Linked DNA regions of Homo sapiens. The protein of the gene in region 1 interacts with the protein of each later gene in a pairwise test. Each region holds a gene or a part of one and is shown on either strand. Other genes may lie near its edges.

Region 1 (4,175 bases):
TCAAGCGATTCTTCTGCCTCAGCCTCCCAAGTAGCTGGGATTACAGGTGCTTGCTACCACACCCGGCTAACTTTTGTATTTTTAGTAGATTCAGGGTTTCATCGTGTTGGTCAGGCTGGTCTCAAACTCCTGACCTCAAGTGATCTGCCCGCCTCATCCTCCCAAAGTGCTGGGATTACAGGTGTGAGTCACTGCGCCTGGTCAACACTGTTCGTGGGTTATTAAACTGAGACATTTTCTTGGAGGACAATTTGGCAATACTCATCAAAGTCCCTTACCCTGCAATTCTACCTTTATATATCTGGTAGACAGATATCCAAAGGTTATCCTACAGATAATTTTGCAAATATACATAAATGTATGTCAACTTTTGTGTATGTATGTTTATGTATGTATGTGTATATATATGGATTTATAATAGCACATAAGCATAAAACTTCAATCTGAACATTCAGTATAGGACTGGTTAAATTATGTTGCAGCCACACAATGGAAGGGAATTCTGATATTAAAAATAATGCAGACCATCTGTGCTGATAATGGAAAGATACTCATCTTCAACATGTTTACGTAAAAAACAAACAGAAAACCCTGCAAGTTATAGAAAGTCTAAACTATGTTCCTGTTTGTGTCTCTTTGCATGAGTGTGCATGGAAATTTTCTGGAAAAATATGTTGTAACTGGTGGTTGCTCCTGGGAAGTTGGGGCAATGGGTGTTCAGAGTGGGAATGTAGTGAACTCTTCAATATATAACCCTATATATAAACCATTTATTAAGGTTTCTATGTGTTAATTTTTTTTTTTTAAGTTGATGCCTTACACTTAGGCAGGCCAGGCGTGGTGGCTCATGCCTGCAATCCTTGCATTTTGGGAGGCTGAGGTTGGTGGATCACTTGAGGTCAGGAGTTCGAGACCAGCCTGACTAACATGGTGAAACCTCATCTCTACTAAAAATACAAAAAAATTAGCCGGGCATGGTAGCACATGCCTGTAATCCCAGCTACTTGGGAGGCCAAAGCAGGAGAATCGCTTGAACCAGGAGGCAGAAGTTGCAGTGAGCCAAGATCATGTCACTGCACTCCAGTCTGGGTGACAGAGTGAGACTCTGTCTCAAAAGATAAAAAAATTACTTAGGCAGTATGTTTCCTTTTAGGTTGCAAGGACTTTATTGATTTCATTGTTAAGCTAGCCTTACAAAGTATATACATACACACACATATAAATTAGTTAAACCAAACTAATTTTTTCTATTCTTATTAATCTCAGAATAATTACTGAAAGATGAATCTAGGTTTTTTGTTTAGGCTTCTGTTAGAACACTGTCAACAAATTTCTCTATAAATGGTGATAATTAGAAAAATTATAATTTGGATGGACTGATAAAAAATATGTGTATATATCTTTCAGGATGTTGCTGGAGCACTGTCAGTAGAAGAAATCACTGAACTACTCAGTCTCCATAAATTATGCTGTGGCCGTAGCTGGTATATTCAGGGCTGTGATGCTCGAAGTGGTATGGGACTGTATGAAGGGTTGGACTGGCTCTCACGGCAACTTGTAGCTGCTGGAGTATTGGATGTTGCTTGATTTTAAAGGCAGCAGTTGTTTGAAGTTTTGTGGTTAAAAGTAACTTTGCACATAGTATGTTTTAAGAAATTATACATCTCAAAAGATGGTAATTTAGGATGCATATATATATATATATATATAAAGGAATCTTGGATTGGGAATTCAGTACTTTGCTTTAAAAAAATTTTGTGGCAGAATTAAATTTCTAATTGAGCAGATTAGATTGAATTAAATAGAAACTTATTGAATATACATTCTTTTAAAAAGTATATTTGTTATTTAAGTTTTTCAGATAATATGTGACCAATATACTGGGAAAGAGGTAGTCACAGAGAAAGGGTAAGTGAAGGTTTATTCTTTCAGTGAAAAAAGAATAGCCAATTGAGTGCCTAATGAGACCTCTGTGTGAAGCAAGTGAAGTATAGCTGCTTCTTTTAACCTGCCTTTTCACTGAATGTTGGCAGCATTTAGTAGTAGAAATGACAGTTGCTTAATGAAATAGAATCCAAACTACATATTTGGATAATAGGATTACTTTATGTTTATGTTCAGAGTTAACAGAACACCTTTAATGCTAAGAACTATAAGGTACAGAAAATTAATACTTTATATAGTGTTTTATTAACTTTCTCCTACAGCATTTTGTATAAAACACAATGAGGGAGTGAAATGTTACCCAATTAGGCTTGTCAGGTTAGTAATAAACTGAACAGTAATAAAACTGTGGAAGTAATTGGATCTGAATTTATGAAAGACCCATTTCCAGGACTGAACCTAGGTCAGAGCTCTAAATTGGTCCTTCTATTTTTCAACAAATTTAAAGTAATATTTCTTTCTAATATAATATTGCATCCTTTGTGGGAATGACTATAGGTAAAATGTAGTAAGTAACGCAGAACCAGGGTTGGCTTTATTTAAAAGCTAGTGACCTAAATAGAAAGCGAACTTCAAGAGAAGTTGTAAGTACAGTGGCAAATGCTTATTACTTACTTCAAACTGTTTCCCAAAATAAGTGCATTTATTTTGACAATAAAACTTAAGGCTGTTCATGAGAAGGCCTTGAAAAGTTACTCTAGAGGAAAAATGTCTAAAGAAAAAAAAAATTCAAAAAGTTTACATTAATTATTCAGTGTTGTGAGTAAATAAAAATGTGTGCTCTTTACTGTTTTTCATTTTTAAAGAATATTATTATGGAAGCACGATTTATTTAAATAGGTACATTGAGACTTTTTTTTTTTTAATGTTCTGATACATTAGGATGAAGTTAAATCTTAAATCTTATTAGTTGAATTGTTGTAAGGACAGTGATGTCTGGTAACAAGATGTGACTTTTTGGTAGCACTGTTGTGGTTCATTCTTTTCAAATCTATTTTTGTTTAAAAACAATACAAGTTTTAGAAAACAAAGCATTAAAAAAAAAGCCTATCAGTATTATGGGCAATATGTAAATAAATAAATGTAATATTTCATCCTTTATTTTTCAGGTAAAAGGTCATGCTGTTACAGGTGTAGTTTGTGTGCATAAATAATACTTCCGAATTAAATTATTTAATATTTGACTGATTTCAATAACTGTGAAAAATAAAAAAGGTGTTGTATTGCTTGTGAGAACTTGAACTGTTTACTAGTTAATTGAAGAAAAAGTGTAACACTAAGGTGAACTTGCTTCCCTTTTCACTAATTTTGCTAAACTTTGTAATGCACATTCTTAGCATATAACTGAACACAGTTGAAAAATTGTGCCTGATTATAATGTATGTATAATGGTAGGTGTTTGTGTGTGATTCATTTTTAAAGAAATATTTTTCTCAAGCTCCTATTACTATTTGTGGTTGTATTATTTCACTAATCATTAGTTAAGACTGTGCTAGTCTTCCCTGGGAAACTAAGAAGAGAGCTTTTTTATATACAGTATATTAGAATTTTCCTAGTAGCTGAATTTCTGTATTAGGTCTAAATATTACTGTATGTTATATAAAGCAGGTATGTCAAGTGTATAGCCGTAGTCTATAATTCAGGAATGCTTTATAACCATCAGAAGCCATTATTTGCACTACATATATGATAAGTATAGACAGCAATAAAATGTTAAGATCATTTTTAAGAAGTCCCATCATTATTCTTGAAAGTCTCTTTCTTGAACCATCTACCTAATATTATTGCTAGTTGTAACCAATTTAAGAAGTCATTATTTGTGCTGTGGTTAGGAGAGAAAATAAAACAAAATGGGTATGGGTTGGCATGCCTGTCAAATTTGAGATGTAGTTTATTTGATACAGCAAAATTTTAGAAATAACGTTTTGAATTTGCAACATAGGCCACATTTACTGATGAGAACAGATACTAAACTTGATCTTAACTACACCTGATCTTAGCCAAAAGGCCGAGAAGTAATGTGCAGGCCACATTTAAATAAGTAATATAACCATAGTGTTTTGAAGGCGGAGCTAAAGTTTTACATTGAACGAAGTGAAACTTTGTTACTGCCTTTTAAATTTTAAATGTAAACTTGTTTCATAAGAAAACATAGTATTTTAAATGACCATTTTAGAAAATGGCTTGCAAAACTTAGTGGTAGCTCATGAACTAATACTGCTAAGAGAAAG
Region 2 (7,031 bases), about 110 Mb from region 1:
GCCCCTGGAGACCCACAGGGTTTGGCACTGTCCGTGAGGCTGTGCTCCTGAGGACGGACGTTCAGGAGGCCGTGGAGGAGCAGCGCTGCAGGAGCAGGGTGTGGCAGCTGTCGCACACTCGCACCGGCTTGGGGTAGGAGGGCAGGGCCAGCTCGTTGCTGGAGCAGGTGTTGCAGAAGATGTGGCCACAGTTCCGGCAGTGGTGCTACAGGACGGGAAGAAGGCGGTCACAGGACACCCGGGGAAAAGCCATCCGCACACCCTCCCTGCTTCCTGACCCAGAAGCGCATCATTTGCTGGGAATGGGTTCTTATGTTTCTGTGGGGTGGTGAGGGGCTGTGTGCAAACAAGGGTCTTTTTTTTTTTTTTTTTTTGAGATAGAGTCTTGCTCAGTCGCCCGGGCTGCAGTGCAGTGGCGCGATCTCAGCTCACTGCAAGCTCTGCCTCCCAGGTTCACGCCATTCTCCGGCAGTAGCTGGGTCTACAGGTGCCCGCCACTATACCTGGCTAATTTTTTGTATTTTTAGTAGAGACGGGGTTTCACCATGTTAGCCAGGATGGTCTCGATCTCCTGACCTCGTGATCTGCCTCCGCCTTGGCCTCCCAAAGTGTTGGGATTACAGGCGTGAAACACCGCGCCCGGCTTTTTTTTTTTTTTTTGAGTCTCTGTCGCCCAGGCTGGGGTGCAGTGGCGCAATCTCGGCTCACTGCAACCTCTGCCACCTGGGTTCAAGCGATTCTCCTGCCTCAGCCTCCCAAGTAGCTGGGATTACAAGTGCCTGCCACCGTGCCCGGTTAGTTTTTGTATTTTTTTAGTAGAGATGATGGGGTTTCACCATCTTGGCCAGACTGGTCTTGAACTTCTGACCTCGTGATCCACCCACCTCAGCCTCCCAAAGTGCTAGGATTACAGTCATGAGCCACCGTGCCCGGCCTAAGGGTGTTTTTAAGACAAAAAGTTTACTTTTGCTGTACTTCATCACTAAGCCAGTGAGCTGCTAGTCCATGTTACAGGAAGAGTCTGGTTCGTTCTCTTTGCTGCATTCCAAGGGGGTGGAGTAGATCCCTTTCTAAACAGGTTCCCTGGGTGCCTGATAAGACATCAAGATGAGCACCTGTGCAGCCTCTGCTTCTGACTCCACAGATGGGGACAGCCAGGCCTTGTAGACACATGTGATCTCAAAGGCAGCCTCAGGACGTGGTTTCTAGCTCTGAGCTTACTGCAAGGCACTGCCTGAAACTCGGGTTGGGGAGCGGGTGGGGTAGCTGTGGCTTCCTCTCTTCCACAGAGCTAGGCTGTTGATGGGAACAGACAGAACATGGCTGTGGCAGAAAGGTGGGTGGCGCTGGCAGTGTTTCCTTTAGCTCCCAGTTTTGCTTATACCCAACTCTTCCCCTACCCAGCTGGTCTTGGTGAGACTGTTAATAAGGCCCAGTCAACCCTAGACCCAAGGGTGAGCCTAGGACCTTGTTTCCAGAACCTAAAGGGCAGGGGCAAGCACGCTGCCTAGATCACTAGTGATTTTTGGTGACCTGCTGCCCTGTAGGTTCCCCATAGATTGTTTTTGCCTAAGTTGGGCCAGATTTTGTTCCTGCCGCATACAGAGAATTTTCAATGACACTCCCCTAGAGCAGCTCTGCACACAAGGAGCCCCATCTCCCCAAAAATCATTGTCAATCACTGAAAGGATGTGCTGGAGACCAGGGGCCTATGACTGGCCAAGGCCTCCCAGAAAGAGGGTGCCAGGATGGAAAGCCATCTGCACAGGCAAACAGGAGAGGCGGGGCTGCCCATCTGCCACAGTCAGCACAGTCACCGGGCAGTGAGCCTGCTCTGATATGGGCTTCTGGAACCAGAGAAAGGGGAATCCAGCGGGCAACGACTCAGGGCACTGGGAGGGTGGGTGGAGCCCCCACGTACCTTTCTCCGGGAAATGGAGAACTCCTTCTCACACTGCCTACAGTGTGTCGCTTCGTCATCTTTCAGCCAGGCGTGGCCCTGAAGAGGAAAGGACATTCTAGAATCCACTTTCTGTCTAAGCCCCTGATGAGTGGGTAGCTGCGTTCTGGCCACATCCATTGTCCCTCATAGCACCTGTTTCCTAGTGAGGCACTGTTTCTCCATCAGATGGGGCCTCACAGGACTGTCATCAAGGGGCTCTTTCCCCGTCTGGCCGCAGCCGGGATTTCTGCATCCTAGCTCCGTGCTCCACCTCTTGGCCTCTGCAGGCTGCCCTGGGGCCTCCAGGCGGTCTCCAGCATCTGCTCACTCAGGCACACTCCCACTTTCAATCAGTTCCCTTTGGCTGAAGTAAGCAGAGCGAGCTTCTGGTGCCTGCAACCCTAGACCCTGCCTGAGACACTGGCCGAAGTGCTAGCTGAACTGGCAGGCGCGGAAGAAGGGCCAAATCTGAGTGAGACTAAGACACTTGTTGACGCTGATCCTTGTGGAGAGACAGAAGGTGATGGACAGCGGGCACTGCGTCCCACAGGCCTGAGGAAGCCCTTCTCCATGCGGGCCAAAGCCCTGATTCTTGACCAGCCCTGGGGAGCACATGGACTCCATTCCACAGGGGAGGCGGCTGAGGCTTTGAAAGGTGGCCCCTCAGAGGGCTTTCTCAGGGCGAAGCAGCACCTGTGATTTATTTGGGCTTAGGGACTGGGGTGTTCCAGAGAAGTCAAAGGCATGAGGTACTTTTCTGGCCTGTTAACATCTGCTGGACAAGATTTTCTTGCTGACAAATAGATCCTCACAGACTGAGCTAGAGCCATATACCCTTGGGGCTGCCAGTGTGTGCCCAGGACATTCATCCTGACATCAAAGAGCTCTGGCGGCTCTAGAGTCCTGTTTTATGATTTCTATCCTCTGATGCTGTGAAACTGATATTACCTAGAAGTCCCGGCTGCTGTTAGTTGCTGCCCCTGACCTGGCACTTGGAAGTTAGATGCCCAGAGACATCAGGGTCCCTGCTCTGCACCACGTGGAACAGTGTGCAAAGGGACTGCTTTTGCATTGCTGCCACGGCACAGCTGAGGCCGAAGCGGGGTGCTCCTGCAGGCAAGGCTGTCTTGAAGGCCAGGCTGCCGTGCCCCCGAATGTCTGCCTCCTCTCCCACACTCTCCGCCCTGCAGCTCAGCCTGGCACCCGCACCCACACCGGGCCACCTGCAAACTCCTGCTTTTCGGTGGAATGTGTCATTCTGCCCTCCCCACCAGGGTGCGGAAACCTGGCCCAACTCAGGGCTTGGCTTGAGTGGTCCCTAGCAATGGCACAGGGCACTGCAGTGGGGCTGGCTGGCCTCTGGCCCCTCACTTCAACAGAAGGGCCTGTTTTCCACTGTTTAAAGATATCCGCGGGTCCCTCCTCTCCGCCACCTGCTTCCCCCTTAGGGAATGCCCATCAGGCCTATTTTGAAAGCACAGCTGATGGTGGAGGAACTGGAGTCGGAAGACCTAGGCTCAGCTTCGGCCACCTGTCAGCATCGCCCTCAGCCGAGGGACACGTTTCTGAGCAGCGTTTGGCTTCTCTGTCAATACGTCATCACCACTGCCTCAACCACACGCTCTCACCTGACTGTTGGGATACTTAAACGTACGAGCACACGGGCAGTCAGCACAAGCTGACAGCAAAGAAGTGGTTCTTAGCAAGGCAGTACCTTCAGTGCCTGGTTCACTTCTTTTATATCTTCCATCTTCAGCTTGGACCTAAGGAAAAAAAAAAGGCCATTTCATAGCAGTGAGAGAGAGTGAGGCTCTGAATCCCTAACACAGCTGGCTCTCAGGACTAGCTTTGTGAGGATACCGGACTTGTGAGGAGACCCAGAACGTGAGTTGTTAAAATGCCTTCCGCCTCTGTACAATCCCAGAGTTGCCTCATCACACTGGCTCCCGTCTGCTGAGGGCTGAGGCTGAGCCTGGGACTGCATCTGGCACGAGAACACACTGCTTAGCCTGCAGGGGCTCAAAAAGACTTTGAGGGAGGCTGAGGCGAGAGGATGGCCTGAGGCCAGAAGTCCAAGACCTGGCCCTGTTCTGCACTAGTCTCTACCGCTCTCCCCAGCAGGAACCTGAGTCTGCAGGCTTCTCCCCGGCCTCCATTCTGCTGCCTGCTGTCTGGAAGGGGGAAGGCTCAGATGGCATAGCCATTTGTTCTTGCTCCATTCTTGTTCAGTGTCAGAACAATTCCTTTGTTTACACAAGAGACAGGACTGAACATGGTCTAAATTGGCAGAACTAAACCAAATAAAATGAAGCAGTTTGTGCAATTGAGGGAAACAGTCTGATCCTTTTTTTTTTTTTTTTGAGACAGGATCTTGCTATATTGCCCAGGCTGGAATGCAGTGGTGCAATCATGGCTCACTGCAACCTTGACCTCCTGGGCTCAAGTGATCCTCTCACTTTAGTCTCCCAAGTAGCTGCGACTACAGGTGCATGCCATCACGCCTGGCTAATTTTTGTATTTTTTCTAGAGGTGGGGTTTTGCCATGTTGCCCAGGCTGGTCTTGAACTCCTGACCTCAATTGACCCACCTGCCTCAGCCTCCCAAAGTGCTAGGATTATAGGCCTGAGCCTTTTTCTTTTTTTCTTTTTTTTTTTTGAGATGGAGTCTTGCTGCATTGGCCAGGCTGGAGTGCGGTGGTGTGATCTCGGCTCACTGCAACCTCTGCTTCCTGGGCTCAAGCAATTCTCCTGCCTCAGCTTCCCAAGTAGCTGGGATGACAGGCGCCCGACACCACACCCAGCTTATTTTCTTGTACTTTTACTAGAGATGGGGTTTCACCATATTGGCCTGGCTGGTCTTGAACTCCTGACCTCAAGTGATCCACCTGCCTCGGCCTCCCAAAGTGCTGGGATTAGAGGCCTGAGCCCCCACGCCCAGCCTGGCCTGGGTCTTTCTTAAAAGCTGAGATCAGTCTGAACTATCATCAGATTAGACTCATCTCAGTGACAAAATGGCAGGTCTCTGGGAAACACAGGCTAGACTTCGAAGGGAGGGATTAGAAAACAGCATCAGGGCATTTAGAAAAATCCCTGTGGCTTTTACTAAAGATCGGGAGGCAGCTCCTTCCCTTCCTGGTCCGGCTGCAGAAACAGGAAATAGGCCAGCAGATTGACAGGATGAGAAGAGGCTGCGCAGATGGACAGACCTTGGGAAGCCAGGTCAACAAGGCAAACTGAACATACAAGAACTCTGGGAAACACAATTTAGGAAGAATCCAGATGTTCCCAAGCCAATGAAACTGGAAACTGTTCCTGTAGCTAATGTAGGGCCTGCGAAGAGGCTTTGCCATCTCTGTCATCCGGTATAGGCTTGCAAGAGGAAGAAGGGAAGAGGGGAGAGAGCACAAAAGCAACTCCTCAGGTAGTCCTGTCTGGGTTTGCAAACACCTGATGCTGTGACACCCACAGCACTCACTGGGAGGGAATGGTGGCCAGGCAGCTCACACTGGGATTTGGAAGCTAGGTTAGCCGGTAGTGCCAGGCGGCCACAAAGTGCAACAATACATTTGTTTGTTTGTTTTTGAGACAGAGTTTCACTCTTATTGCCCAGGCTGGAGTGCAATGGCGCGATCTCGGCTCACCGCAACCTCCGCCTCCCAGGTTCAAGCGATTCTCCTGCCTCAGCCTCCTGAGTAGCTGGGATTACAGGCGCGCTCCACCATGCCCGGCTAATTTTATATTTTTAGTAGAGATGGGGTTTCTCCACGTTGGTCAGGCTGGTCTTGAACTCCTGACCTCAGGTGATCCACCCACCTCAGCCTCCCAAAGGGCTGGGATTACAGGCATGAGCCACCACACCCGGCCACAATGATACATTTTAAAGATCAGAGACCAACCACAGTTTCGAGGTCTATGGTCCACTAGGAGGGGACCTGTGACACTGCCTTGCTGTCCATCCAATGTAAAGAGGAAAACACTGGCTGCAAACCCCAGAAGCCAGCTCCACGCCAGCTCTGTTCCACGTCTGCTTCTGGTGAGTGCTCTCGGGATGCCCTCACAGCTGGCCTATGCTCTGAGCATGGGGACAGACACTGGGCCTTGCGTCCCTCAAGGAGCTCCCTGGGGGTTGGGAAGGAACGGGCCAGAGCACGGCAAGTTGACAGGCCAGACGGGAGCAGCACAGGGCACTCAGCTGAGTGGGTGGCAGGCAGGGCGGAGGGTGGGAGGGGAGGAAGCAGCGGCCATGGGCTAGTCTAGAAAGGTAAGAGGCACAGGAGAGACGGCGAGTGGCCAGCACCTGCATCTGGGAGTGGGCAGACCGCATTCCCACCAGAGACATCAGATTCCCTGACCAGCTATTTGTTTTTTTTTTTTGAGATGGATTCTCACTTTTGTTGCCCAGGCTGGAGTGCAGTGGTGCAATCTCGGCTTACTGCAACCTCTGCCTCCCGGGTTCAAGCGATGCTGCTGTCTCAGCCTCCCGAGTAGCTGGGATTACAGGTGCCCACCATGCCTGGCTAATTTTTGTATTTTTAGTAGAGACGGGGCTTCACTATGTTGGCCAGGCTGGTCTCGAACTCCTGACCTCAGGTGATCTGCTCACCTCAGTCTCCCAAAGTGCTGAGATTACAGGCGTGAGCCACCGCACCCGGCCTATTTTCTTAATAGTACTAGACTCTACAAATTTCTGGTGCAGACCAGGCTGTGCTGAGGTCGTGAGCCCCATCTCCTTGGTCATGGTGCTTATGTCAGGCATGGGTACTCGGGAGCAGGGTCAATCTCGGGTGATCCTGGCAGCTATGCACAAAGAAGAGGGAGTTTGTTCCTCTGATAGATGGCCTTGCTGAGTGCTGTTTTGCCCCTGCAGGGTCCAGACCCACCTGTGAGGCAGACAGGATAGCAGAGGTAGGAGACAGAGACCGATTCCTGATGGCTTCTTTTGCTTAAGCCACTTTGAGTTGGATTTCTGTTACTTGCAACCATGCGCCCTGACTCGAGGAGAAAAGCTACCCACTATGTTGAAAATGCAGAATCATCACACAAATGGGCAAGTTCCACAGTCCGCAGTGTGATCCACCCCAAGGCCCAGG
Region 3 (7,031 bases), on another chromosome or scaffold:
CAGCACTTTGGGAGGCCAAGGCAGGTGGATCATCTGAGGACAGGAGTTCGAGACCAGCCTGGCTAACACAGTGAAACCCCATCTCTACCAAAAATACAAAAATTAGCCAGGCGTGGTGGCAGGCGCCTGTAATCCCAGCTACTCGGGAGGCGGTTCTCATTCTCAAAAAAGTTTGTGTTAAAAAATAAAATGCTGCATCTAATTGCAAGTGCTTTTTTACCAGTATGTGATTGGCATAACAGCAACACATCGAAGTGTCAAAAGTGTAACTCTCCTGCCAAGTGAATTACCTCAATTTCCTGTAACTGCTCCTGATTGGTTGTATACATCTGCTGAACAGAGTCCTCCAACTCTGTGTTCCGATCCAGTAATGTCTTCCCAAGCTCAGCAGCAAGTTGAAGATCTAGCACAACAAATGAATCTTAGAATAATACAAATGATCTCACATCAACAATTTATATAACCCAGTCCTTCAAAAAAGAACATGTAGTTTAAGTCACATCCCAATGGAAGGTGGAGTGGCACAGAAGGAAACCCGAGTTCTACTTAAAATTCAGTTAAACTGACGCCTCCAGCAGGTAATGTATTCTCTTATGTACCCATACTTGTAAGAAGTGAAAAATGGTCATCTACTTTATGGAGATGCAGTTATTTGTTCAGGAATGATCATTCCGCAGTGTTACTTCTAAAATCCTATTTGCTAGTACAATGAATGTATTCATATCCTGACAGTCTACTTTTTTGAATGGACCCTTGAGCCAAGGTATAGGTGGAGCTTTCAAAAATCTTTAAAGTTCCCATGAATTTGCCTGCTGTGAATACAACTGTTAAAGTTTATTGTCATATATCCTGGACTCCTAAGGGGACTAAAATTTATTAAGTCAAGAAAAGGAAAAATACATCAGCATTAAGAACACTGCCCCAGGTCACTCTACTTCTCTTCGTGTCCTTCTGTAAGATGAGCAACTAGAAAAGCAAAACAGAAATGTGGTTTTTGAGGTAATTACATGTCAGTAGCTCATACTTCCATTTAGCACAGAACCATATTTTATTTTAAACCTCATTTTTCAACTCTCTCTATTCTTAGGTATAATGCCCATAAAACAGGATTTGTTTATATTATACTCAACTCCCAGAAATGAAAATTTAGTTAACAATATAAGAAAGGACACTAGTTGTAACATACGTCATTGAAATACTTCTTTGCATAGTAAATCTTATGGAGCAGTCCTTTGATACAGTGGGAAATGCACTGCACTCTGGGCAGGTAAGTCTCAGGCCCAGTTCTATCATTTACCAGAACACTTTCAATATGGTGACTTTAAGGCCCCTATAGTTAGTATTCTTGTTTAGAGAGATGACTGTCTTATCAATATAAGATTGTGAAAATCAAATGAAATAATACATAAAGGAGTACTTTACAAACTAAGTTGCAATACGCACGCAAAGTACTATTAATAGTCATTGATTCACAAATGAATGTTTTTGTTGCCAGGCACTATGCTAAGCATTAGCTATAGAACAGTGAATAAAATGAAGTCCTGCTTTGCTGACATTCCCAGATTAGTGGAGGAAGCCAGACAAATGAGTAACTAAACTCACATACTGTGATAAACAGTATTCATGCATGCATGCATATACTCAATAATATCAGACACTATTCTAGGCACTGGGATGGTGCCCAGGAGCCATAAGGAACTCACATTAAAAAAATATCCCTGCCCTCATGGAGCTTATATTCTACTGGGAGAAACAGCACAATAAAACTTGATAGCGATAAATGCTAAAGAGAAAAAAATAAAGCAAGGAAGAAGTACAGGAGGAGTGTGGATGTGGGAGGCTGAAATTTAAGAACATGTGACCAGGGCCACATTAGAATCAATGTGTGAAGGAACAGAATAAGTGACCCATGTGTATCCATCAGGGAAACAGCACTCCAGGCAGAGGCAAGGCAAGTGCAAAGCACCTGGGAGGAAGCATGACTGAGTCATTAAGGAGGCTGAGGAGGGTGGAGCAGAATGTATTGGGCAGGGAGGGGAGGGGGAAGACTCAAATCAGAGGGGCTCCAAGATGGCCAGTTTGCGGAGGGCCTAACTAAAGAGGTCAAGAGTTTGGCCTTTACTCCAAATGAAGGAATCCAATGGAGGTTTAACAGGATCACTCCGGCTGCTGTTATACAGGGTGAATGGGACAAAGGTGGGAGCAGAGTGACAGAAAGATACTGCAATCGTCTGGGTGAGAGATGATGGTGGCTTGGACCAGGGTGGCAGAGATGAAGATGGGAGAGGAGGGGCAGAATTCTGACATGTTTTGAAAGTAAAGCTAAAGGATTTGTTGACCAATTCAATATAAAGTCTAAAAGATAAAGCGGGGGAGAAAAACCTGGATTTGGTGATAATGAACAAAGGGCTTTCTTTTTCTGTCTCTTTATTAGGCACGGTCTCGCTCTGTTGCCATGCTGGAGTGCAGTGGTGCACTCATGGCTGACTGTAGCCTTGGATTCCTGGGCTCAAGTGATCTTCCTGCCTCAGCCTGCCAAACAGCTGGGACTACAGGCATGCACTACCAAACCCAGCTTACTTACTTACTGATTTATTGTAGAGACAGGGTCTTACAATGCTGCCCAGGATGATCTCAAACTTCTGGCCTCAACACATCCTCCCACATCAGCCTCCCAAAATGTTGGGATTACAGGCATGAGCCACTGTGCCCAGCCTAGGGCCCAATTTAGAAAGGGAGGTCATAAGGAAGGTCTGACAAGACCTTTTAGCTGAAGCTTGAAGGATGAAGAACTTGCCATGAATTTGGCATATTCTACAACCTGACAAGCAGCCAGTATGATAGAAGCATGAGGGATCAGATCATATAGGATTTTATAGCCCATGGTAGGTAAAGTTTAAATTTTATTCTAGGTATGATGGAAAGTAGCCTCAGTTATTGTCATAAAAGTATTATGAAAAAAATTTATCATAAAAACAAGGAAACTCACTACATAATGATTTTTAAACTTAATTTTTAGAGGTTGACAAATAAGGCTTAATGGCTATCCACCACTACTCATAGTAAAACTTAGCATTGAGTAAATGGTAACAACAGCATTAGTTGTTGTAATGTCCACTCAAGTGCATAATTAGTATTCTACTTGGTTAGTTTTCACTCTGGAAAAAGCAGCAAAACCTACCACACCCAACTCCAGATCATTTAAAAACATTTTACACCCATTTAAAATAAAACAGTATACTGTTGGTAGATAGGTGCTAAAATACATTCTCTTGTGATTTCAAAACTAACAATGTCTATTAGTCATTACATTCATTAAGACTTTAGAGGCCAGGTGCAGTGGGTCATGCCTATAATCCCAGCATTTTGGGAGGGTGAACCAGATGGACTGCTTGAGCTCAGAAGTTCGAGACCAGCCAGGGCAACATGGTGAAATTACATCTCTACCAAAAATACAGTGAGGCCCTGTCTCAAAAATAAAAAAATAAAAAATAAAGACTTCCATTAAATCTATGAAATAACTTGTATTTACAAAACACAGAACTTTTACAAATAGCTCAAAGCATTTAAGAGACATTAGTCTTTTTCTTGTCATTATTTATTTATTTTTTTTGAGATGGAGTCTCTCACTCTTGTCACCCAGGCTGGAGGGCAGTGGTGCGATCTCGGCTCACTGCAACCTCTGCCTCCTGGATTCAAGTGATTCTCCTGCCTCAGCCTCCTGAGTAGCTGGGATTACAGGCACCCACCACCACACCTGGCTAATTTTTGTATTGTTAGTAGAGATGGGGTTTCACTATGCTGGCCAGGCTGGTCTCGAAATCCTGACCTCAAGTGATCCGCCCACCGCGGCCTCCCCAAGTGCTGGGGATTATAGGCATGAGCCACTGCCCCCAGCCTACTTTTTGTTTTCTAGAGACATTAGTCTTTATATCTTTAAAGGTATTTAGTCCAGTTTCTCAGATGAGACAGCCTGAAGCACAAAACTGTTAATTGACCTAATCAAGCTCCAAGGTGAGTCACAGATCAAACAGAAACTCTTAGGTCAACAGGTTCTCACTCTCACTCTCATCACGATTCTTTGTTATCTTCATCTGCAGAGTTTTAAGGCAATTGAAAGAGAGGTCCGCAGGCTTCTTTAAGGTAGAGAATACAAATGTTCCCCTTGTTGAGGTACTTAATTTCTTCTACTTGTTTTCACAGATTGCAATGAGAAATTAGAGTTCAACTATTTGGGTTTTTATTGCCTGCTCTGCTAGTGAAAGCACATACAACCCCAGGCAAGTTAATACCCTGTTTTCACCAAATGAAAAAGGAACTATGTATGGCTCAACATGTTCCAGAAAAAATGATTTTGTACTCACAGAGTGTGTAATGTGTATACATAGACCCATATGGAAGCTACCACACTGTATTAAAGACAAAGTATAAAAACATTACCTAGGTATTACTTAAGTCTTTCCTTCTTAAATGTGTGAAGTGGTAATTCCTCACTGGGAAGGCTCAGATTCACCAAAGATGCTCTTAACCAGCAATCAAAGCCTGAGCCAAGGACCGGGTGTGGTGGCTCACACCTGTAATCTCAGCACTTTGGGACGCCAAGGCAGGAGGACTGTTTGAGGCCAAGAGTTCGAGACCAGCATGGGCAACATAGCAAGACCTTGTCTCTTAGCAGGAAAAAAAAAAAAAAGAAAAAAAACAAAACCCAACTGGGCTGAAACCTCTCCCAGAATCCAGACTGTCTTGAGACTATCACCACTTTCATTCAGTTATGGAACTACCTGTGCTACTTAAGAGTAGCCAGGAACCTCTTCCCTGCTCCTGCAGAAAGAGATACCAAGGACAGCACTCTTTAGTAGATAGCAAACAAAAAAGAATTTGAGACTTGTCCTTATCTCAAACCTTATTTCCAGTAAAACAAAGCACCAGCCTGGCTCAGAAACCTGAAGTCTCGATCTCCTAAATATTTATAGGCTGTTAAGGATAGAATTTTAACAAGTCCCAACTACAAGAAAGCTCCTGTGAAGTCACACTGTATAACAGGATATTACTTCATCTGTTAGCTTAAAGACACCGGACTTTGTCTTTAAAAAAAGTTCATTTCCTGTTGAGTAGCAGCTGGCTTCCATAACCAAAAGAGGCCAAAAGCTGGCAGTAAGCCCAAGAAAGTTTTCTAAATAATTAGTGGAGGGAATAGAATATTGAATGTCCCTTATAGTTTTAATTAAGGCACAAAAGAAAAGGAAATAATATAGTTTCGAAGCCTTATACACCTGTTCATCTCTACAGGATTACAAAATGAATTTTCATTAAGAGGGTCTTCTCTAAATCCTATTGAACTGGCCTGGTTTAGGCAACTACTAAAAATACTGTAGATTTATTGCAGGCTTGAGAATTTCAACATATCAATACCTTCATATGTTGAATATTCTTTCACTAATGAGTCTTTGCAGGTAATAATATATTTTTAATGGTGTAAACTGTTAGCTTTAAACAGATACTCAGCTCTATGCTTTAGGCAAAAAATTAGTACTGGCAGCTGTAGTCTGTAGGAGTAATTCACTAACAGTAAGGCTGAAAGTTTTTCCTATTACAAAGTCAAATGCGTCATTTAGTGATGCTTCTGTTTAACTCCTGTTGCCAATGTTACTATAATTGGGAAAGCAGAAAACCTGAATATAAATATCAAGAAAAATGATGTTGTCAGTTTTAATAACCCTCCAAACAGTGATTCAGCAAAATAGTTGTACACAAGGAGGATGTACTCATCCTGCAATTTTAGGATTCCTTTAAACTAAGAGTTCATTTACTGATCCACATAACAGAAACCTGAATCCTTATTCTAAGTTTGCACAGCTCACCAAATGACAATAGCAGCTGGTTTAAAAGAAAATCCAGTCTCTGAAGTCTTTCCACCTTGTTCTCAGGGGCATGTTTCAAAGCAAGCACCATCATTACCTGCACTGAAGGCTCCTGCTGTCCCAGAAAAGATCTTACCCACAGAGATTATTGTCAGTATTCCTACTGAGCCAACTCAGCTCTCTGACAAAAGACAGTCTCTTCATCAAAGAGTTTTGTAACAGCAAAGGGTTTTCTCCTCCTGCCTACACAAAAGCTTTACATGTTTCTAACAAGGTATGAATAGTAGACCAGAGTTTACTGAGGTTAGAAATTTCCAGCAATTTCAATTTAAAAACGGATACCCTAGGAAACTTTGATACAAAGATTCAATCTATTCAGAGCATGGCTTACTACTGCTAAAGGAAAACATTCTATAGTTGTAAGATACTGAGAACAGGATCATTAAAAGTTGTTTTCCAGCCAGGTGCGGTGGTTCACGCCTGTAATCCCAGCACTTTGGGAGGCCGAGGCGGGTAAATCACGAGGTCAGGAGATTGAGACCATCCTGGCTAACATGGGGAAACCCCGTCTCTACTAAAAATACAAAAATTAGCTGGGTGTGGTGGCACGTGTCTGTAATCCCAGCTACTTGGGAGGCTGAGGCAGGAAAATGGCTTGAACGCGGGAGGCGGAGATTGCAGTGAGCCAAGAGCGTGCCACTGCACTCCAGCCTGGGGACAGAGCGAGACTCCACCTCAAAAAAAAAAAAAAAGTTTTAAGCAGTTCTCTCCAAATAAGCCTTGCTCAGTAATAATAATGAGGATGTTAAAAAACGGACAGATGCCTGCACATAAAATCCCACTAGACTTGCTGAATAATCTGTTTAACAGGACAGACCTGCTCCCAAACTTAATTCAGCAGCAAGTGTCTACTGAGGGCCTACAATGTACGAGGCGCTGTAGTGGGCACATCCCATGAGGCGGCACCTCCAGGCTTCTCTAGTGAACAGATTCCTGGAACATTCACTCTATGGGAGTAGGAATCCTACCTATCCACTCATGTGGGGAGGTGCTGTGGCCCCAGGGCCCAGGCGAATACCTGGCAAAGAGCAGATAATACATTTTTGAGAAATGAACAAGTTTTAAAATCTGTTAAAAGTTTAGGAGTTAACATATAACTTAGCAAAACTG
Region 4 (7,989 bases), on another chromosome or scaffold:
GCCTCCTTCCTTCCCGTTGCCTTCAGCCACCTCAGCAACGGCATCCTTGACATCAGTAAAGATGAAGGGGAAGGTGATGGAGGCCTCTTTAGTGGCCACAGGGCCATCGGTGGGCTCCGAGAGGGTGTTGGTGAAGATGCTGGTGAGGGAGGAGGGGAAGGTGAGGGAGCCCTCCCCGCTGGCCGAGAGGCCCACACAGTAGAACACGGTTGGCGTGTGTTTCCCCACAGGGACGAGGCCATTGTTGAGGGAGATGGGGCCCCAGCCCTGGGCCACGCCAACCGGGCTGCAGAGGGAGCCCCGGCCTTTGAAGAGGAAGCCCTTGAGCTCGAAGGTCTGGATGCTGCTGCCGAGGAGGCCGGGGCCGTGGAAGAGGGGGTCTCCAATGGCCACCGGGAAGCCTTTGCCCCCAGGCATGGCCACTGAATCCCCAGACAGGAAGATGGAGCCCTGGCCGATGACCAGGGCCTCACAGCTGCCAGTCACAGGGAGAGAGGCCCCCGCAGGGGGGGCAGGGCCCTCAGCGATGGGCACCTGGTCATTGCTGGTACCCACAAGGGAGAAGGGGATGGCGATGACAACGCCACCCTTGCCAAGGTCGTCGCCAGGGGTGGACAGCGGTTTGCCCCTGGAGACGGTGCCAGTGCCACCCCAGGCCGTGGCGGGGAAGTTGCCTTTTGTGGCGTTGGCGCTCCAGGCGGGGTCTGGGGCCTTCTGGAGGAAGCAGACCCCCAGCTCACAGGCCTCACAGCAGCCCTCATAGGCCTCCCTGGGGTGCCGGGCTGGGCCGGGGCCATCCCCGTAGCAGTCCTGCAGGATGTGCAAGACCAGCCTGCTGAGGAAGGGCTGCTCGCCCGGGGGCCTCACCTGGCAGTCCCCGGGTGCGGGGCACAGCCTGCACCGCTGGCCCCAGATGCGCATCTTCACCAGCCCCCGGTGGCTGGCCCTGTCCCACCACAGGTGGAAGAGGACGTGCACATGGGCCGAGTCCCAGGTCCCCGGACAGTGACCGCACTGGAGCCTGCGGCGGGGAAAGAAGTGTGTGTGAGTGCAGGAGAAAGAGGCCCCACGCCCAGCCCTCGCACTCTGCTCTGCGGCCTCCTTGCCCATCCGACCCCAGCGCCTCGCTGCCCCCTGCCTCACATCCCACACTCAAACCTCAAACCTCACCCCCCAGCCACCCAGGGCCGCGGCCAAGGCAGCCTAGCACCTGCTCCTGCCTGTGCCGAGGCTCTGAAACCACCAGCCCCTCGGCCACACACAGGCAAAAGCAGGCCCATGCGCACTAGCCCGCAGCCCCCTCATGTGGAGCACTGAGAAGCAAAGCAAACCTCCTCTCAGCAGTTTTTCAACAAAACCCGCTCCAGCCTGGCCTCCGTGAGGCGTCGGCAGCCTGCCACCTGCGTGGCTCTGCTGGTGTTTTGTGAGTTGGGGTTAACACAGGAAGAGGCAGGCCTGCCGACACACTTAGGAGGGGAAAAGCATGCATGTGGGGGCTGTCCCTGGGGGCTCAGCAAGTGGGGGTCCCTGTCCTGACTGAGAGGAGGCGATCCAGGAGGTCGCCTGCCAGCTGAGGGGAAGGATGTCACGGAGGCCTGCGGTCATGGCCCGGGCAGCCCTGCTGGGCGTCACCAGGCGAGGAGAGGTTTGGGGAGAGCACTGGGAGGGATTGGCTTGTCCATGGCGGTCATCAGACCGGTGACCATTTGCTAGCCACACAAGCAGCTGTGAGCTTCAGGGAACCCTGCATGAGTGAGAGGCTATGATTCAGTTCCAGGCAGTGGAAGTTTCTGGATGACAGAATGTTCTATAGCCACACTGCCCTGCCTGCAGCCTCCAACCACACTGGCCACAGAGCCCGTGGACACGTTCGTGCTGGAGGAACTGAACTGCTGACTTTATTTAAATGGGACTGAGGAGCCAAAGCCACGGGCGCTGGGGCTGCATGTTGGGGCAGCCGTCCTCAGTTCTCTCCCGCCAGCTGGGAGCCGCTCAGAGCCATCTCCACCTGGCTGTGGGAACAGTGATGTGCTTCCCAGCACTTCTCAGACCCCAACACGGGTTATTACTTTCCCAGCTTCTGAAAAAGCTGGGATTCTGCACACACCTGGCCCCAGGGGTCTCAGGCACTGAGGAGCTGTGTCAAAGGGCAGGACGACTCCCCCTTTGCCCAGGGTGTCTCCACAGAGGGACGGACCAGCCAGCAGCCTGGGGGCCTGTCAGGCCGGGCATCTGCGAGGATGTGGAGCTGCCCCGCGCCCCTCCCAGCTGGCACCCGGCCGAGCTGTGGATGCCTTGCCAGTTGGAGAAGCGCATGGCGCCCGCCCTGCTGCGCTGACGGCACCACAACCGTGATGACGGCCTGTGAGGCTCACTTGTGACCCACAGCCACCCCGGGCCCCCGATCAGGGCCGAGCACCCCGCTGTGTGCAACACAGGGCCGGATGGTGACCACAGGCTCCGGCACGCCCCAGGGCCCACCTGTCAGCACTGATGGCTGCGAGACCACGGCAGTGCCATGGAAGCAGGAGATGAGCCTGTGTCCAAGGGCAGCGCTGGCCCAAGGAGCCGAGTGAGGGAAACCAAACTCTCCATGAGGCACCCGCCATGTCTTCCCCGGGACCCCTGCGTCAGCAGCCGTGTGCCCAGCATGGCGAGGCAGGGGCTCCGGCGGGAGAAGGAGCACCCAGCCCCACCCTCCCGTCTCGGGGACAAGACGAGGCCCAACAGCCCCACCCAGCCTCTGGGACCACCCAAGGTCCCGTGGAAAAGCACCTTCAGCCCCCTGCCTCTCCCAGGGTCCCCAACCTCTGGCCGCACCTCGAGAGCCCCACCAGCAGGTACTGGACACCACCGCCGTCCAGGCATCCCGGGACCAGGCTGTGCTCAGGTAGCAGAACCCAGACGTCCTGGGGCTTCCTCTCGGCCATGGCCAGGGTGAAGGTGCTGGCCCACATGTCTGCCCCAGCCCGGTCCATGCTGCCGCCTGGCTCCGCAGTGTGGGCTGAGGGCTGCGCCCGCCGGGGGCCCAAGGAAACGTCCCCGCATCCCGCGCCGGCCAATCAGCCACCTTGACAACAGCATGGTCTCCATGGCAACCAGATTTGTCTCCGAGAAATGGGAAGCAGAAAGGAAAAATACAATACAATGCAATCTCCCATGACCCCGCCCCCCAGAGAGCATCCCTGTGGCAGCACCGTGGTGGTGGTGGTGGGCGTGGGCCCGTGGACACGCAGGGGCCTCCCCAGACCCGTGCGTGTAGAGGCCCGGGTGTTTTCACACATCGCACCAAGGAATCATCCACAGCCCTCTCTTTCTAGTGCACATCAGGAGCGGTGGCCCACACTCATCCCTTGCTGAACACTTGGTATTTTTCCAGCTTGTGGCTATCATGTAACTTATTCACTCAGCTTCTCTCTGCAAACAGCACTAATGCTTTTCACACAAACAAAGCTGAGAAGAACTTTATAGAACGTGTATCATTGCAGATTGTCCCGTGGGTGTATTCTCTTAAACTTTTTACTAGTGAGAAATATAAAATATTTACATAAAATGCCTAAAACATAAATGCAGAGCTTCACAAATTATTCTAAAGTCTTAAGTCACCACGTCCTATAGGAAGAAACAAAACCTCGCTCTGCCAGCCTCCAGAGCTGGCTGCCTGTTCCCTCCCGATCTCAGCCCGCGGCCCCACCCCCACCCCCTGCCCTCCTGGCAGAGGTGCCACCAGCCTGGCCGTGCCTGCACAGACAACGTTGAGGCTTCAACACCTATGATGCCTCCCTCACCGAGCCCTTTAGCTGTGCAGCTTCTGAGCTTTACATAAACAATTCATGCATGTGCCCAGCTTCTCACGCCTTTTCAGGTTGTTTAATTTCTGAGATTCAACAGCATTGCTGTGCGTGGCAGCCACCTGTCATGGCACAACAAGAAAGGGTGAGCTGAGAAGGAGCCGGGACGTGCAGGGGCGGAGACAGCCAGCTGATCCCTGCAAAACCTCAGCACAGATCTGCCCCCGGGAGGCTCCCGGCCACCCGGCTCTCCTCACAGCTCCCATCTCGCCATCTCTCTGCCCTGCACACTGAACAATCTCTTCTCATTTTTCTACCACTTCACACATTATCTCCTCGTCTCTGTCGACTCTGCAGCTAATGCTGGCAAGCGCCTTGTCATAGTTTTCATTTCTGAACCTTCTTTTCGGCCCTTTCAAACCTGTGACATCTTCCCGCCTTGCAGCTAGGTGTGACTGCAAGATAGAAGAGGAAGCCAGTGGGACGCACTCTGGGAAGGGGCCTCCATACAGGGCCAGACTGCCAGGGAAAGCCCCGCGTTTCTCATCCCAGCTTCATTTTCTTCTATCCATCAGTGCTGGGATGATGGCCGCACTCCAGCCTGTCTTAGACCTGCCTCAAGCACAGAGCTGTGAGCCCAAGGAGCAGGAAGGCGGGAGCCCGGGGCTGTGGTGACAGATGGAGTCGTCACACCACTGGAGGGTCGCCCACCTCTGGGTTTCCTGTTCACACGAGAAGTAAGCCAGCTGCCACTGTGGTCTCGAGGCACTGTTCTCTGGCACTGTGGATGATCACACAGCTAGCCGGAGCAATCCTAACTCACTCGCCGGGCTGTATCTAAGGTCCTGGGGTTTGCTGGTTGGCTCCGGGCCACTGTGCGTGTGTGGGCCCCTTGTGGTCCTGGTCGTGTGCCCCCGCAGGGGTCTAAGAGACACCTACTGTCCACTTGCCTCCAAAAGCCTCGGTCCACAGGGGTCCCTGCAGAGGACCTCCTCCCACCACAGCCCCCCAGAGCCAGTGTTTCCTGGCTGCTTCCGTGCCACGCTGGGGCCACAGCCCTGCCTGCCAGTCCCACCTCTCAGGCTCCTCAGCCCTGGAGGCCACACCTGGCTCTGAGTTTAGGGAAAAGCTTTGGAATGATGACTGACCACAGTCACCCAAAATAACCTTTTGGATGGCAATTCCGGCCCTTATGAAATGCAGGGAGCTGGTTGCCCGGGCATTATTCGCTCAAGAATTGTTGAGTTTTCCTTAGACCCATCCCAGAACACCTCCAGAGGCCTGGGCGGCAGACAGCAGAGAGGGCATCCTGTCCACGCCTCTGTCTGACTGCCCATTTGTCTGTCTCCCAAACCCACAAGCCACGCCCTGCAAGAGCTGCTTACGTGGCCCCCTCACAAATCAGCCAGCCATGAGCACCCCCTCTTCTTCGGCGGGGATGGATGAGGCAGGTTGTGCACAGCACCCACGGGTCCCTGCAACATGTGGCAGGGTCCTCCTTGGGCCTTCTGCATCAGCGCCCACCTGGAGCCGGCCACTGGAGCCTCTCTCCAGGCATGTGTGGTCCCTCCAAGGACAGGCCCTAGGACCCAGGCCTGGGGCAGACGCCTTCTGACCCCGCTCCCTGCCCAGCCTCCCCGAAGGCTGGCTCCAGGACAGGGTGAGATGGGGGTGGGAGATTGGGCCACAGGGAAAAGAAACGATCAGGGGAAGCCGGGTGCCCCTTCAGCACTGCTGCCCACCTGGTGTGGTGGCTTAGCGCTCCCTCTCCCCGCAGACACGCGCTCCTTCTGGGGCCCCTTCCTCACACGCTGGTACCCGTCTTCCTGAGCTCAGCTTCTGGGGAGGGCAGCTGGCAGGCCGGGGACAGCCCTCCCTTGGGAAGCAGAACTTGCAGCTCAGGTGAGTCCCACCACAGTCTCCTGCCAGAACGGATGCACTGCCTGGGCCTGGAGGAGCAGAGGCAGCAGCTCCCGGCGAGGGAGGAGCAAACGCCAAGGCCCGGTGGGGCCAGAGGACCGGTCGGCTGACGGGATGGTGGTCCTTGCTCAGAGGGAGAAAGAGACGGGCAGGAAAAGGAGCCGAGCAGAGAACGGTGGCCGTTCGCAGGTGCTGGGGCTCACCCTCCCCCCACAGACCTCAGCTGGGGCTCACCCTCCCAACACAGACCTCAGCTCGTGGCTGCAGCGGCAGGGACAAGGCCGCCTCCCAGACCCCAGGCCCTGCAGTCCCACAGGCCCCACCGGCAAGGGGTTGTTCCTGGCCCAAGGCTCCGTGTGGCTCTGCCCCAGCGCTGCCCAGGCGGGCAGGGATCCCAGGACCGGCAGCTGGTGGGGGGACGCAGCCTCTGTCCAGCCATTCTGTTGCTGAAAGCGCTTCCACTGTCCAAGAGGCCCCTTGCTCTCCCCTCCAACCCGCAGTCCTGCTGGGGCTGGGGAGGCCATTCCGAAGGAGGAATGCAAGGGACCTCCTGCACTCGCCCTCGGAGCATCCCTCCCTGGGGGACCGCTCACTCACGCTGCTCATCCCCCGCAGCTCAGCATCCCCCGCAGCTCAGCATCCCCCGCAGCTCAGCATCCCCCGCAGCTCAGCATCCCCCGCAGCTCAGCATCCCCCGCAGCTCAGCATCCCCCCGCAGCTCAGCATCCCGCGCAGCTCAGCATCCCGCGCAGCTCAGCCCGGGTTCTTCGGCTTTGGAGCCCAGCAGGGGGACCAGCAGGGGGACCAGCAAGGGGCCTGAGTGACACCCACTGCCCTGGAGTGAGAAGGCAGGGGCGCCACACACACACAGGACACCACACACCACACACCACACACACCACACACACTACACATACCACACACACACTACACACACCACACACACCACACAAACACCACACATGCCACACACGCCACACACACCACACACTACAAGCCACACACACCACACACTACACACACTACACATACCACACACACTACACACACCATACACTACACACACCAGACACACTACACACACCACACCACACACACCAAACACACACATCACACAAACCATACACAACACGCACTACACACACACACTCTACACACACCACACACAGCACACACACCATACCACATACACCACACACACTACACACACCACACGCACCCACACACACCACACACTACACACACCACACAACCAAACACCACACATGCCACACATGCCACACAAACCACACACTACACCAGACACCACACACACCACACAACCAAACACCACAAGACACATATGCCACACACACCACACACTACACACCACACACTACACACACCACACACTACATACACTACACACATCACACACTACACACACCACACACTACACACACCACACATAAACGCACATTACACACACCACACACACACACTACACACACCACACTTACAACACACACCACCCTACACACACATCACACAAACCATACACAACACACACTACACACACAACACACTCTACACACACCACACACAGCACACACACCATACCACATACACCACACACACTACACACACACCCACACATCACACACACTACACACACACAACACATTACACACACCACACACAGTACACACACCACACACACTACACACACCACACACAAACGCACACTACACACACCACACAACCAAACACCACACACACCACACACTACACCACACACCACACACTACACATACCACAAACACACACTACACACACCACAGAAACACCACACATTACCGCACACACCACACACACTACACATACCACACACAAACACACACGCCAAACACGCCACACACAGTACACACACCACACACACTACACAACCAAACACCACACACACACTACACACACGACACACACCACACACACGACACACACCACACACTACATAAAAACACTACACACACCACACACACCAAACACCACACATGCCACACACACACCACACACACTACACTACACACCACACACACTACACCCACCACACACACAACACACCACACACACCACACACTACACCACACAACACACACAACACATACTACACACACCACACACACACTACACCCACCACACACCACGTACACACTACACACACCACACAATGCACACTACACACACCAAACACATTACACCACACACCACACACACTACACACACCACACACACCACACAC

What was found.
Region 2: the proteins of TRIM23 (region 1) and RUFY1 interact in binary tests that used the Homo sapiens proteins (3 or more experiments, as listed by UniProt).
Region 3: the proteins of TRIM23 (region 1) and CDR2 interact in binary tests that used the Homo sapiens proteins (3 or more experiments, as listed by UniProt).
Region 4: the proteins of TRIM23 (region 1) and RTP5 interact in binary tests that used the Homo sapiens proteins (3 or more experiments, as listed by UniProt).

Annotation. Positions count from the first base shown.
Region 1 is NC_000005.10:65,589,181-65,593,355, reverse strand, and holds the end of TRIM23 (E3 ubiquitin-protein ligase TRIM23), read left to right. Parts: intron 1-1,407; coding exon 1,408-1,587; 3' UTR 1,588-1,853; coding exon of another isoform or gene 1,854-1,912; 3' UTR 1,913-3,053; coding exon of another isoform or gene 3,054-3,057; 3' UTR 3,058-3,666; downstream 3,667-4,175.
Region 2 is NC_000005.10:179,602,550-179,609,580, reverse strand, and holds part of RUFY1 (RUN and FYVE domain-containing protein 1), read right to left. Parts: exon of another isoform or gene 6,809-7,031; intron 5,975-6,808; exon of another isoform or gene 5,840-5,974; intron 3,706-5,839; coding exon 3,657-3,705; intron 2,000-3,656; coding exon 1,922-1,999; intron 1,297-1,921; exon of another isoform or gene 1,116-1,296; intron 1,092-1,115; exon of another isoform or gene 965-1,091; intron 206-964; coding exon 62-205; 3' UTR 1-61. UniProt on the Homo sapiens protein: Activating adapter involved in cargo sorting from early/recycling endosomes. Regulates retrieval of proteins from endosomes to the trans-Golgi network through interaction with the dynein-dynactin complex.
Region 3 is NC_000016.10:22,364,612-22,371,642, forward strand, and holds part of CDR2 (cerebellar degeneration-related protein 2), read right to left. Parts: intron 404-7,031; coding exon 291-403; intron 1-290.
Region 4 is NC_000002.12:241,864,746-241,872,734, reverse strand, and holds the start of RTP5 (receptor-transporting protein 5), read right to left. Parts: upstream 3,007-7,989; 5' UTR 2,979-3,006; coding exon 2,821-2,978; intron 1,022-2,820; coding exon 1-1,021.